Linked DNA regions of Homo sapiens: region 2 is linked to region 1. The links come from fine-mapping of genetic effects on gene expression. A gene starts in region 1. The other region holds a variant in brackets. All regions are shown on one strand. Distances are between the middles of the regions. Region 1 holds the start of ASB3 (ankyrin repeat and SOCS box containing 3). Region 2 overlaps ASB3 (ankyrin repeat and SOCS box containing 3).

What was found. PIP is the estimated chance that this variant, and not a neighbour inherited with it, causes the effect.
Region 2: its variant is fine-mapped to the expression of ASB3 in whole blood (TOPMed, PIP above 0.99). The same link has a PIP of 0.9 or more in monocytes and non-classical monocytes.

What each region holds. Positions count from the first base shown.
Region 1 is chr2:53,784,098-53,789,428 of GRCh38, reverse strand. It overlaps ASB3 (ankyrin repeat and SOCS box containing 3), which reads left to right and starts at 2,476. Exons shown (of 10, transcript NM_016115.5): 1 at 2,476-2,608. The region is part of intron 1 of GPR75-ASB3 (GPR75-ASB3 readthrough); the gene reads left to right. It overlaps ERLEC1 (endoplasmic reticulum lectin 1), which reads right to left and starts at 2,385. Exons shown (of 14, transcript NM_015701.5): 1 at 2,057-2,385. The coding sequence starts at 2,218. RefSeq lists enhancers at 2,393-2,812, 2,328-2,986.
Region 2 is chr2:53,755,384-53,760,762 of GRCh38, reverse strand. All of the region lies in intron 2 of ASB3 (ankyrin repeat and SOCS box containing 3), which reads left to right. The region is part of intron 2 of GPR75-ASB3 (GPR75-ASB3 readthrough); the gene reads left to right. Among named protein-coding and RNA genes, the nearest start is that of CHAC2, 9.7 kb to the left of the region's middle. The variant T/C (reference allele first, on the strand shown) is at 3,077.

The DNA.
Region 1 (5,331 bases):
CTAAAAAAAGAATTTTTTTTTTTTTTTTTTTTTTTGAGACAGAGTCTCACTCTGTCACCCAGGCTGGAGTGCAGTGGTGCAATCTTGGCTCAGTGCAACCTCCACCTCCCGGGTTTAAGCGATTCTCCTGCCTCGGCCTCCCAAGTAGCTGGGAGCACTGGTGTGCACCACCACGCCCAGCTAATTTTTGTGTTTTTAGTAGAGATGGGGTTTCACCACGTTGGTCAGGCTTGTCTTGAATTCCTGACCTCATAATCCGCCTGCCTCTGCCTCCCAAAGTGCTGGGATTACAGATGTGAGCCGCCGCACATGGCCAAAGCATTTTTTTTTTGAAATAAAATTGTTAGATACGTGAAAAGTTGGTGTAGCAAATGCTAAGACTGAAAGAAAATGGAATGACAATTTGGTAGTGACCTCTAAAAATGCTAGTTTTAGTCGCTCGCTTATAGTAAGTTTTCAGGGCTGCATATCAGCAAGTTTTTTTAAATTAAAAAAAACACAGGTGCCAAGAGTAAAAAATTTTAATGACATAATTCTTCAAACATCTGCCATATTCACTCCAAGTGTGCTCTTTGGATACAACAACAGGTATTAAAGTATTCTCTTCCAAGCCTGCTAAAGTTATATCTGATTCATAACAAAATTTTACATAGGTATTTCAATGTATCAATATTTTGTGGCATTAATACAAAGAGAAATTTGACGTCCCAGAAAAATATTTACCTAGATAAATTCAGAACATTTGGTTCACACATGTAATCCCAGTATTCTGGGAGGCTCAGGCACGAGGATTGCTTGAGCCCAGGAGTTCGAGACCAGCCTAGGCAACATAGTGAGACCCTGCCTCTAGAAAAAAAAAAAAAAATTAGCCAGGAGTGGTGGGATTTCCCTATAGTCCCAGCTACTGGGAAGCTGAGGAGATCTCTTGAGCCCAGGAGGTCGAGGCTGCAGCCAGTGGTGACCGTACCACTGCACTTCAGAATGGGCAACAGACTGAGACCCTGTCTCAAAAAACAAACAAAAACAGAAAAACCCAAACCAAACCAAACCAAACCAAAAAACCCCTAACACTTGCAAATAGAAAGCTATGTGGTAATAACATCCATTAACTTGACACATCTTGTTTTGACATCATAGTGTCACTTACTGTTTCAATGAAATGGTAATGAAAGAATATAATAAAGTATTGCAAGTTGAATGCTTGAAGGTAATTGGAATAAAAAGTTTAAAAAAATTTTGCTTTTTCCGGGACTTCAATTTGAAGTAAATGAGTTAATTACTACATGGTAAGTGTCATAAGAGTACAATATTTATTAGCCTGCAGTAGGTACACGTGGACAGGAAGACTTTTCAGCGGTCCACTCCCCCAAGAGGGAATTTTCATTTCCGCGAGGTTACAAATGTTCTTCACTACAGGAAAACTCAACATAGAAGCTCATGTTCTGGGGACTCAAATAACAGTCGTAATACATGAAAACTGTAAAGGATATTCTGCATAAAGGGTCGTTAACATCTCACAGGCCAAATAGCCCTCTCAGAAACAACTAGGAAAGGAAAAAGTTCCCTTGGAGCTGTGCGTTTGCGTATGTCCGTGTGTGTATACAACTGAGGGAGAACGAATACGAGAGAGGGAACTCGAGTCTGAAGTACTGTGGTGTGGGCAGGGTGACATGTAATACTGAAGGAAAGAAGTCTGCTGGTGAAGTAAGAGCCACAGTTAATTTTCCGAAAGGAAGATGAGTAAGTGCACCTGACGTTATTCTACGAAAGCTGCTTCTGCAGGGTGGGAATGTTGGGAAGCAAGGTCTAGTGCGACAGAATTGAAAAGGTGGAGAGCAGGTGATTGCTGGATCCCTAATGCTCAGCAAGGGGGACGCATCCACATAACGTGAGAACGAACGAATGAATGAACGCTGCATAAAAGCAGCTTTGGCTTGGGGAAGGTAAGAGTCTGCAGAGAAGGTCTTGGGGAGAAAAAGCAAAGAAAACCGAGGGAAGAGGCCGAACCCTTAGTGTCAGGAGGAGGGGTGGCTGCGGGGTTAGTGAGGGCACTGACCAGAGAGAACTCGGTGCCGGGCCAGTTGACTCGGAAAGGGATGTCATCGCTGAGTTGAGGAAGGGCTCGGCCGCCGCCGGACGCCTCCAGGAGGCCGCAGAGGACCAGTAACACCGGCCCGCCCGGGACCAGACTCCGTACGCCGCCGCCTCCTTCCTCCATCCTCCGCCGCCGCTTTCTCCAGCCACCGCCACAACCTCCTCTGCTCCAGGAGGAGAGGAGGAGGAGGAGGAGGTGGAGGAGGAGGCGGCGGGACTATAAAGCGCCCGGGTATCACCGGCCCAACCGCCGCCACGTCTCCTTCCGGAGAGCCCGGCAACGCCGCCTCCGCCCCCTTGAGCCTCCTGTCACCGTTTCCGGGGCAGACGACATATCAACATCCGGGGGTCGCGGAGCCGTCCGCCTACGGGGGCCGGGACGTCGCCTGCGCGTCTCTCGTTTTCGGACGGCTGCAGCATCGCGGTGGGGATCGAAAGCGGGGGCTTCTGGGACGCAGCTCTGGAGACGCGGCCTCGGACCAGCCATTTCGGTGTAGAAGTGGCAGCACGGCAGGTCGGTGAGTCTCGGAGGCGGCAGCCGCTTCCTGAAGCCATTCCCGCTGCTCTCCAGTGGGCAGGCAGAGGTTTGACCCACACGGAGTGATAGCGGGAAGAAGACAGTGTGAACCGTGCGGGTGCGGGTCCTTAGATGAGAAAATTCGAAGTAGCGATGAGATGTGAGAAATGGCGGTGTTCCTGACTGACCTGCCTTCTTGCAGCTTTTCTTCTTTTTCTCCGCATTTGGCATTTGTACACTTCATTTTTCCCGCTTGAGGCTTATCTCCATCTCTTCTGCTGTGGACCGTGGCCATCTCGTTACTTAACAGCTTCTGACTAACGCAGGGCAGTTTGTTCAGCGACTGCAACTCTGTGTTAGGGGAAACCTGGGGTGAGGTAGCCCGCCATCTCCCCGTAGGTGAATACCGCAAGCCTCCGAATTTGGCGTGGTGGGCGACTCTCGTGGAATGGGCAGCTAGACATCACAACCCTACATTTTTACCCTCCATCTCTAGATTGAAGTGTTGGGGTGTTGTTTTATCAAGGAAGCTGGTAAGGTTCCTTATGTGAGGTTTAGCGCCAGATGAATGTGTGTGTTTATGAACTAAGTCACGTCTGACTGCATCCCCAAATTAGACAAAAAGTTTTGTTTTTCCCTCCCCCTCTTTAGAAAAAATGCCATTGTCTGTTTTGATCTCCAATATAATGGACATAGAGTGTTGGCTTTAGAGAAATTACCATTCCCTAAAGCTCGACAGTCTTGCTAGATCTGTTAAAGACTGGTCGCCCCCACTTCCTCAGATTTGAACCAAATCAAAAAGCAGGAAGGACAGTCCCATATTCTATCTTAAAAATTTTTTTTTAACATCAGGAATCCATAGTATCAAAGAAGATAACTTTCTTCAGAATTGTTATTCGCTAATTATATTCAGCACTTCTTATTAATGCTTAATGTGATCCAGACTCCTGGGATTTTTGTTGTTGTTGTTTGTTTTGAGACAAAGTCTCGCTCTGTCACCCAGGCTGGAGTGCAGAGGCATAATCTTGGCTCACTGCAACCTCCGCCTCTGGAGTTCAAGGGATTCTCCTTTTTCTCAGCCTTCCGAGTAGTTGGGATTACAGGCGCGCGCCGCTACACCCTAATTTTTGTATTTTTAGTAGAGGCAGGGTTTCACCACGTTGGCCAGGCTGGTCTCGAACTCCTGACCTCGGGTGATCCGCCCTCCTCGGCCTTCCAAAGTGCTGGGATTACAGGCCTGAGCCACTGTGCCTGGCCCCCCTGGGCTTGGTAAAATGCCAAATAAATGGGTTTCTGTCTTTGGTCACACAGTCTAGGCAGGGAGATTGTACAAACAAATAATTGCAAACTATTATAGTAGTAATAGTCAATTTTTTTTTTTTTTAGCATTTATTCTGTGCTAAGCACTAGTCTTAAGTCATGAAGGAAAAGAGATGTATTTGACGGAATAAAAATGAAAACTGTCTGTGAGGTCCTGTTTTAGCATTTAGGGCTATAGTGATTGAATCTGTGTTCAATAGAGCTGATGTTCAAGTAAGAGGGGAACTTAAATAAGTAAAATAATTTCTAGTATTGGTAAGTGCTGCAAAGAAACTAAGGTTATGTGAAAGACAATACCTGTAGGATGTGTTGCTTTTAGTACGTAAGTCAGAGGAGACTTCTGTGAGGAAGTGACATTTGAATTGTGACTTGAATGATGAAAAGAAGGGAGCCAGACAAATTTCTAGGCAGAGGCCCTGAGGCAGGAATGAGCTTGATGTGTTGGAGTGATAGAAAGAAGGCCAGTGTGGCTGGAGTGTAAGAGGAAAGTGGTAGAAGAAGTTTGAGAAGCAGAAAGAGGCCAGGGAGACAGCTCTGTAGGCAGGAGAGTGGACAGGACCCGATGTACATTTGTGAAGATCATTGTGGCTGCTGTGTGGAAAATTGATTGTAGGGGGTGTTGTGGGTTGAATTGTGTTCCCCAAAAAGACATGTTTAAGTCCTATCCCCTAGAACCTGTGAGTGTGAACTACTTGGGATAGGGTCTTTGCAAATATAATTCAAGTAAGGATGAGGTCATACTGAATCAAAGGGGGCCCTAATCTGGTGACTGGTATCTTTATAAGAAGAGGGAAATTTGGATACACATGGACACACAGGGAGAATGCCATGCCAGGAAGGAGGAGGCAGCAAGATTGCAGTATGTGTCTATAAGACAAGGAATGCTAAAGATTGCCAGTAATCACCACAAGCTAGGAAGAGGCAAGGAAGAATCCTTCTTTAGAGCTTTCAGAGAGAGAGAATAGCCCTGCTGACATCTTGATTTCTGACCTCTAGTTTCTAGAATTGTGAGACAATCAATTTATGCTGTCTAAGCTGCTCAGTTTGTGGTCATTTGTTACAGCAGCCTCAGGAAGGTAATAGAGGATGAAAACCAAAAAGTAGTTGAGACAAGTCTCAACCAGTTTAGAAGTTTATTTTGCCAAGGTTAAGGACGTGTCACAGACAGCCTCAGGAGGTCCTGACAGCATGTGCCCAAAGTGGTCGGGCTACACTTGGGTTTTACACATTTTAAGGAGCCACAGGACATCAATCAGTACAAGTCTTTTATGCTTTATTTATAGGTTGATTCTTAAACATTGAAAACTTATCAACTATTTACCATATTGTAATTATACAATCATCATTCGCTATAAAACTATTAAGTATGATTGCATCTGCAGAGAAAAAATGTAATTCTA
Region 2 (5,379 bases), 29 kb after region 1:
CTTCACAGATCCTGACTATCTGCTTGATAGTTTTGAAAAGGCCTGGTCTAGTAAATAATGATTTGGCCATCTGATGGGTGCTATCAATGCCTAAGTGAAAGGTCTAGTGAAGGGTTTTAAGTAATTTCCATTGGTTAGCTGCAGGCAAAAGTATTTTTCCTTCTTCAGTGGCTAGCCATCCTGAGGGGAAGAAGCTATGTACTCTTGAGGTTCCCCATTCTATTTCTTCTGCTGAGTACTGGGCCTTGGTTTCCTGGAGGGGATTACCCCATACTAGGGGTCCTTCTGTAAGCATTTCTAATGGAGGGTCCTACCTTGCAACTCTTTTGGCTTCAATATCTGCTTGGCGGTTCCCTTCTACTTCTTTTCTTTTCTTTCTGGTGACCCTGGCAGTGTAAAACTGCCACCTCTTTAGGTTTCTGTAGAGCCAAAAATAATCTCCTAATGTCTTCCTGATGTTTGATAGGTATTCCCTCGGAAGTTAGGAATTCCCTTTCTCTCCATATTGTTGCATGGGCATGGAGAGTTAGGTAAGCATACTTAGAGTCTTTATATATATTTACCCTTTTTCCTTCTCCTAATTCTAGTGTATAACGGCCCCTGCTTTTCCTAGGATGTCTCTCCCTAACAAAGGAGTGGGGCTTTCAGGCATAATTAGAAAGACATGTGAAAAGAGTAAAGTTCGCCAGTCACAACTTAGTGGCTGGGAGAAGTATATAGTGACTGCCTGTCCTAGGATCCCCTCAGATAGTGACAGATCTGGAGGACAGTTGTCCAGGACAGGAGAGTAAGACTGAGACAGCTGCGCCAGTGTCCAGGAGACAGTTAACCTCCTGGCCCTCAATGATCAAGCATACCCGGGGCTCTGTGAGGGTGATGGCGTGGGCTGGTGCTTGCCCCGGACACCCTCAGTCCTGCTGCTGTATCATCTGGTTAGTGGCTTCTGACTCAGAGGACCTTCGTCCCCTGGGGCAGTGGGCCTTCCAATGATTCCCTTGACATAAGGGGCATGGACGAGGGGGAGGCTTATTTCTATTCGGACAATCTTTTTTAAAGTGTCCTTGTAAACCATACTGGAAGCAATCCCTGTTAGGCATTCGATTTGCCCAGCCTTTCCCTGTTCCAGAGCCTTCAAAGTCCATTTGCCTGAAGACCATGACTAAAGTGGTGGCCTTTTTCTTATCCCGTTTATCCCGTTCTGCCTGCTCCTCCTGATCTTTATTATAAAAAACTGAGGTTGCCAAGTTCAGTAGGGTTTCTAAGTTTTGCTCCGGGCCTAAGGCGGACTTTTGAAGTTTTGTTCTAATGTCTGCAGCTGACTGAGTGATAAACTTATCCTTTAAGATTAGTTGGCCCTCAATAGAGTCATGCGACAGAGAGGTATGCTTTCTCAAAGCCTCCCTTAGTGTCTCCAGAAAGGCGGTAGGATTTTTCTTCCTTTTCCTGTGTTATAGTGGACATCATTGAATAATTCATAGTCTTCCTCCTAGTTTTCCTTAGCCTTCTTGCACGCAAGTTAGCAAATGTCTGCGGCACCAATCTCCATGTTCTGATTTTGCGTCCCAGTGAGGGTCTACACTGGGAACTGCCTCCTGGCCTGTGGAGAATTGTTCTCTTTCTTCTGTTGTCATCCTATCATTGACCTGACTGAGATACCAGAGATTGCCAAACTCTCTGGCTGCAGTTATGGTGGCACTTCTCTCTTTTGTGGTTAGCGTCTGATCTAGCAGCAACATTATATCTGTCTATGTCCGATAAAAGCATTGTTCTAACCCTTGTAAAACATCAATATAGCCATCAGGGTTATCTGATAATTTACCTAGGTCTATTTTAATTTGCTTCAAGTCTGACAGGGAAAAAGGTACATACACTCTGGGCCGAATTCTCCAGAATATATCTTAGGGGCGTTTTTGCCTTGTGGGGAACATGTCCCATCTGAAAAAAGAACATAGGGATGCCAGCACCTCTAGTCATTTTCCAATGAGCATTATCCCAGAGGACTAGAGCGTCCTCTGTGGTCCTAGTGCTTATTCCTTTCCAGGGTGTACAACTACCCATGGACCTCTGCTTATCGGATTAGTTACACTCACCAATGTAGCAGTCCTGCACCCCTTTTCCCACCTTTCTTGACCACAAAGAAAGGGGTCCGGGCTGCTGGATTCTAGTGGTCCTTTACCAGCATGCCCAATATTGCCTTTGCGCTCAAGGGTGAGTTCTAGAGCTGGGCTGGGTTCCTGAGTATTTTATAACAACCCAGCTGCCCCATCAAGATGCGTTCCCATAAACAACAGTTCTTATGCAAATTCTTTTCAGAGAGGGTGTAGGTAACCTTTTGAGTTAGGATTGAGGTAGAGTTTTTGCCCACTAGGGCCTTTGTCCTTTTCCCTTGTAGGAATACGCCCTAATTATCAATCTTAAACTTTTTGTTGCCCCGGATTAAGTCCTTGCCGGTATGAAATTTGAGAGATGGATCCTGTTTATCCCATGTGCCTTTTTCCGTGGGTTACTGGGTTAAGGATTTTTGATAGGAAGGCTATGTGTTGTCAGTGGTCTCAGTGTTTTCAGGCTACGCCCTTGTTTACACTGACAACAAGGTAGTATTGGAGTGTTATAGGGTCACAGAGAAGACCTTCAGTTATCAATTATAGGTTTTAAATTTACCCTGGCTTTTAAAGGAATAGGGTGCACTGTTTTTTCTTTACTACTTCTATCTCTCTTTTTCTCTCTCTCCCTCTCTTTTCTCTCTCTCTCTGTCTCTTCTCTCCTTGAGTTACTTAATTCGCTTTCATCCTGATCTATTATGTTGTCATAGACCCAGTTCCAGTTGTTAAAGTACTGGGTCATGAGTTTCAAGGCCCTGGCCAAGGAGCCAAGGCTTGGAGATTGTATTGCAGAGGGATAAGCTGGGTAAAAATCAGGGGAGGAGAGCATCTTACATGATGAGAGAGCAATCCTCCTAGCCATTTACAAACTTGGGGCCCTGGCAAGGGTGGTGGGGAATGGGTCCCACATAACTGCCCATGTTGAGAGCTGTATATCTAAACTGGGACACCAGGGACAAGATTCCCTGGGTTCA[T/C]AGCCTAGGTACCTAAGGACACAGCATAGAACTTCCTTAGATCCCTTTGGAGATACAACTTGCTCTAATACTTGGGAGAGGAAATGAAGTCTGAACCATTAGTACCTAGGAGGCAGGGATCGGAGGAAGTAGATTCAGAAGTAAGGAGAATTTTGGGCTACACTTTCAAGAAAGTCATGGTCGGGACCCAGGAGGTATGGGTCAGAAGGAAAGGTAGGGGTGCATGCACGGGCGACTGTTGAGTAGAGACTTCGGCTGCGCCATGATCTCAACCAGCTAACGCCGGGAGTTCGGGACGACAGCTTTCTGCCTCTAGTCGGCCCTCGGCCTCCCCAGGAAAATTGAAAGCAGAAGCTGGTTCCAGGCAGACCAACGCTCCCAACCCAGAAGGGTTGGACGTTGTTAGAAAGCCCTTTCCCAGATAGCCTCACACCTGAGTCTTAAGTCTGGCAGCCACACTAATTATTTTTAACTGGCTGACAGGTGCCCGGTATTTTCCTCCAATTCTAAGGAAGGATAGGACAGAATAGCAAGTGAAAGTGGTCCAATATTACTCACCGCTTTTGAGGTCCCTTTGTGGTCACCAAAATGTTACTGGGGGGTCCTTGTTCTTAGAGCTCCTAAGATGGTGGTAGGCTGCTTCCAAGATGGTGGCAAGCCTCTTGTTCTCTGACCTCGGGTTCTTGACCTCACGGATTCCAAGGAATGGAATCTTGGGTCATGCGGTGAGTGTTACAGCTCTGTTCAGCTCGATTAGGATGAACCCCAGGCACTTAGCCTGTGCAGGAACAATGGTGAGCCTCTAGCCCGACTGGGAGTGGCAATGGGCGCCGCCTCGCTGGATCAGAAGTGCAGTGGACACCCTGCCAGATCGGAGGGGTAGAAGTCAACAGCGGGTCTGCGACGACGGTGATCAGCAGTGGTGGACGGTGAGTGAAAGCTCAGTTTGAACTGGAACAAACACGGACCAGAGAGTGTGCAGTTGCAAGATTTAATAGAGTGAAAACAGAGCTCCCATACAATGGGAGGGGACCCAAAGGGGGTTCCCTGCCTTTTTTTTCTTTTAGGTCCTTGAAGGATTACATGATGCCTGCCCACATTGGTGAGGGCAAGTCTTGTTTATTCAGTCTGCTGATTCAAATGGTAATGTCTTCCTGAAACATCTTCATGGATATACCCAGAAATGTTTTAGCAGCTATCTGGGCATCCCTTAACCCAGTCAAGTTGACATGTAAAATTAACCATCACCATGCCAAGTTAAAATATTTATAGATACTGCTAAATTGTATGCTATGTTAATCAGGATTCTTTCAGTACTGAGTGAAAGAAACCTAGTTCAAACTAGCTTAAGCAAAGAAAGGGAATATAGTAGCTCAAGTAAATGTAAATCTGAGTGATGGGTCTCTTCAGAGACTGCTGGATTCTACTATTAGAATGATGTCGTTAGACAGGCAGGATTTCCCTTTGGAAGTTCTAGACTTACCTTATTTTTATTTTTTTAATTAAAAAAATTTTTTTAAAGAGATGGGGTCTTACTCTGTTGCTCAAGCTGGAGTACAGTGGTGTGATCATGGCTCATTGCAGCCTCCAACTCTTGGGCTCAAGTGATCCTCCCATCTCAGTCTCTGGAATAACTGGGACCGCAGACATATGCCATCACATCAGGCTAATTTTTTTATTTTCTATATTTTGTAGAGGTGGGGGGGGGGTCTTACTATTTTGTCCAGGTTGGTCTCAAAACTCCTGGCCTCAAGTGATACTCCTTCCTTGGCCTCCCAAAGTGCTGGGATTACAGGCATGAGCCACTGCATTAGGCCTTGCCTTATCTTTAAAGAGCTCTTTATGTATTCTGGATATTAATCCTTCGGTGTTATATGTGTTTCGGGTATTTTCTCGTCACTTTTCTTAACAGTGTCTACTTTCTTTGTAATGCCTTTCAACCTCTTCCTCTTCACTGACTTCTTCCATGCATCTTGTGTGCATTATGAAGTCTCTGCTGAGGGTTGTCTGAGAAGTTTGCACATAATACAATTCCTTGCATTGTGGAAATTATTTTATATATAACCTTTTCTTATAATACCTAAATAAAACATAGTAAGATGATATAAATTGTGTAAATGGTGTGGCGATATAATCTTGACATTTATTACACTTGTGATTGGCACATAGTAAATTTGTCATCAAATTCTGGCTCAGCTGTTGAGAAATATTCTGGTCTTAATACTTAACCTATCTCCTCTACTGAAAACCTTGTGGTTTGACTTTCCCTGTTAGAGTTTGCAGAAAACAAAAAGAACGGTCTA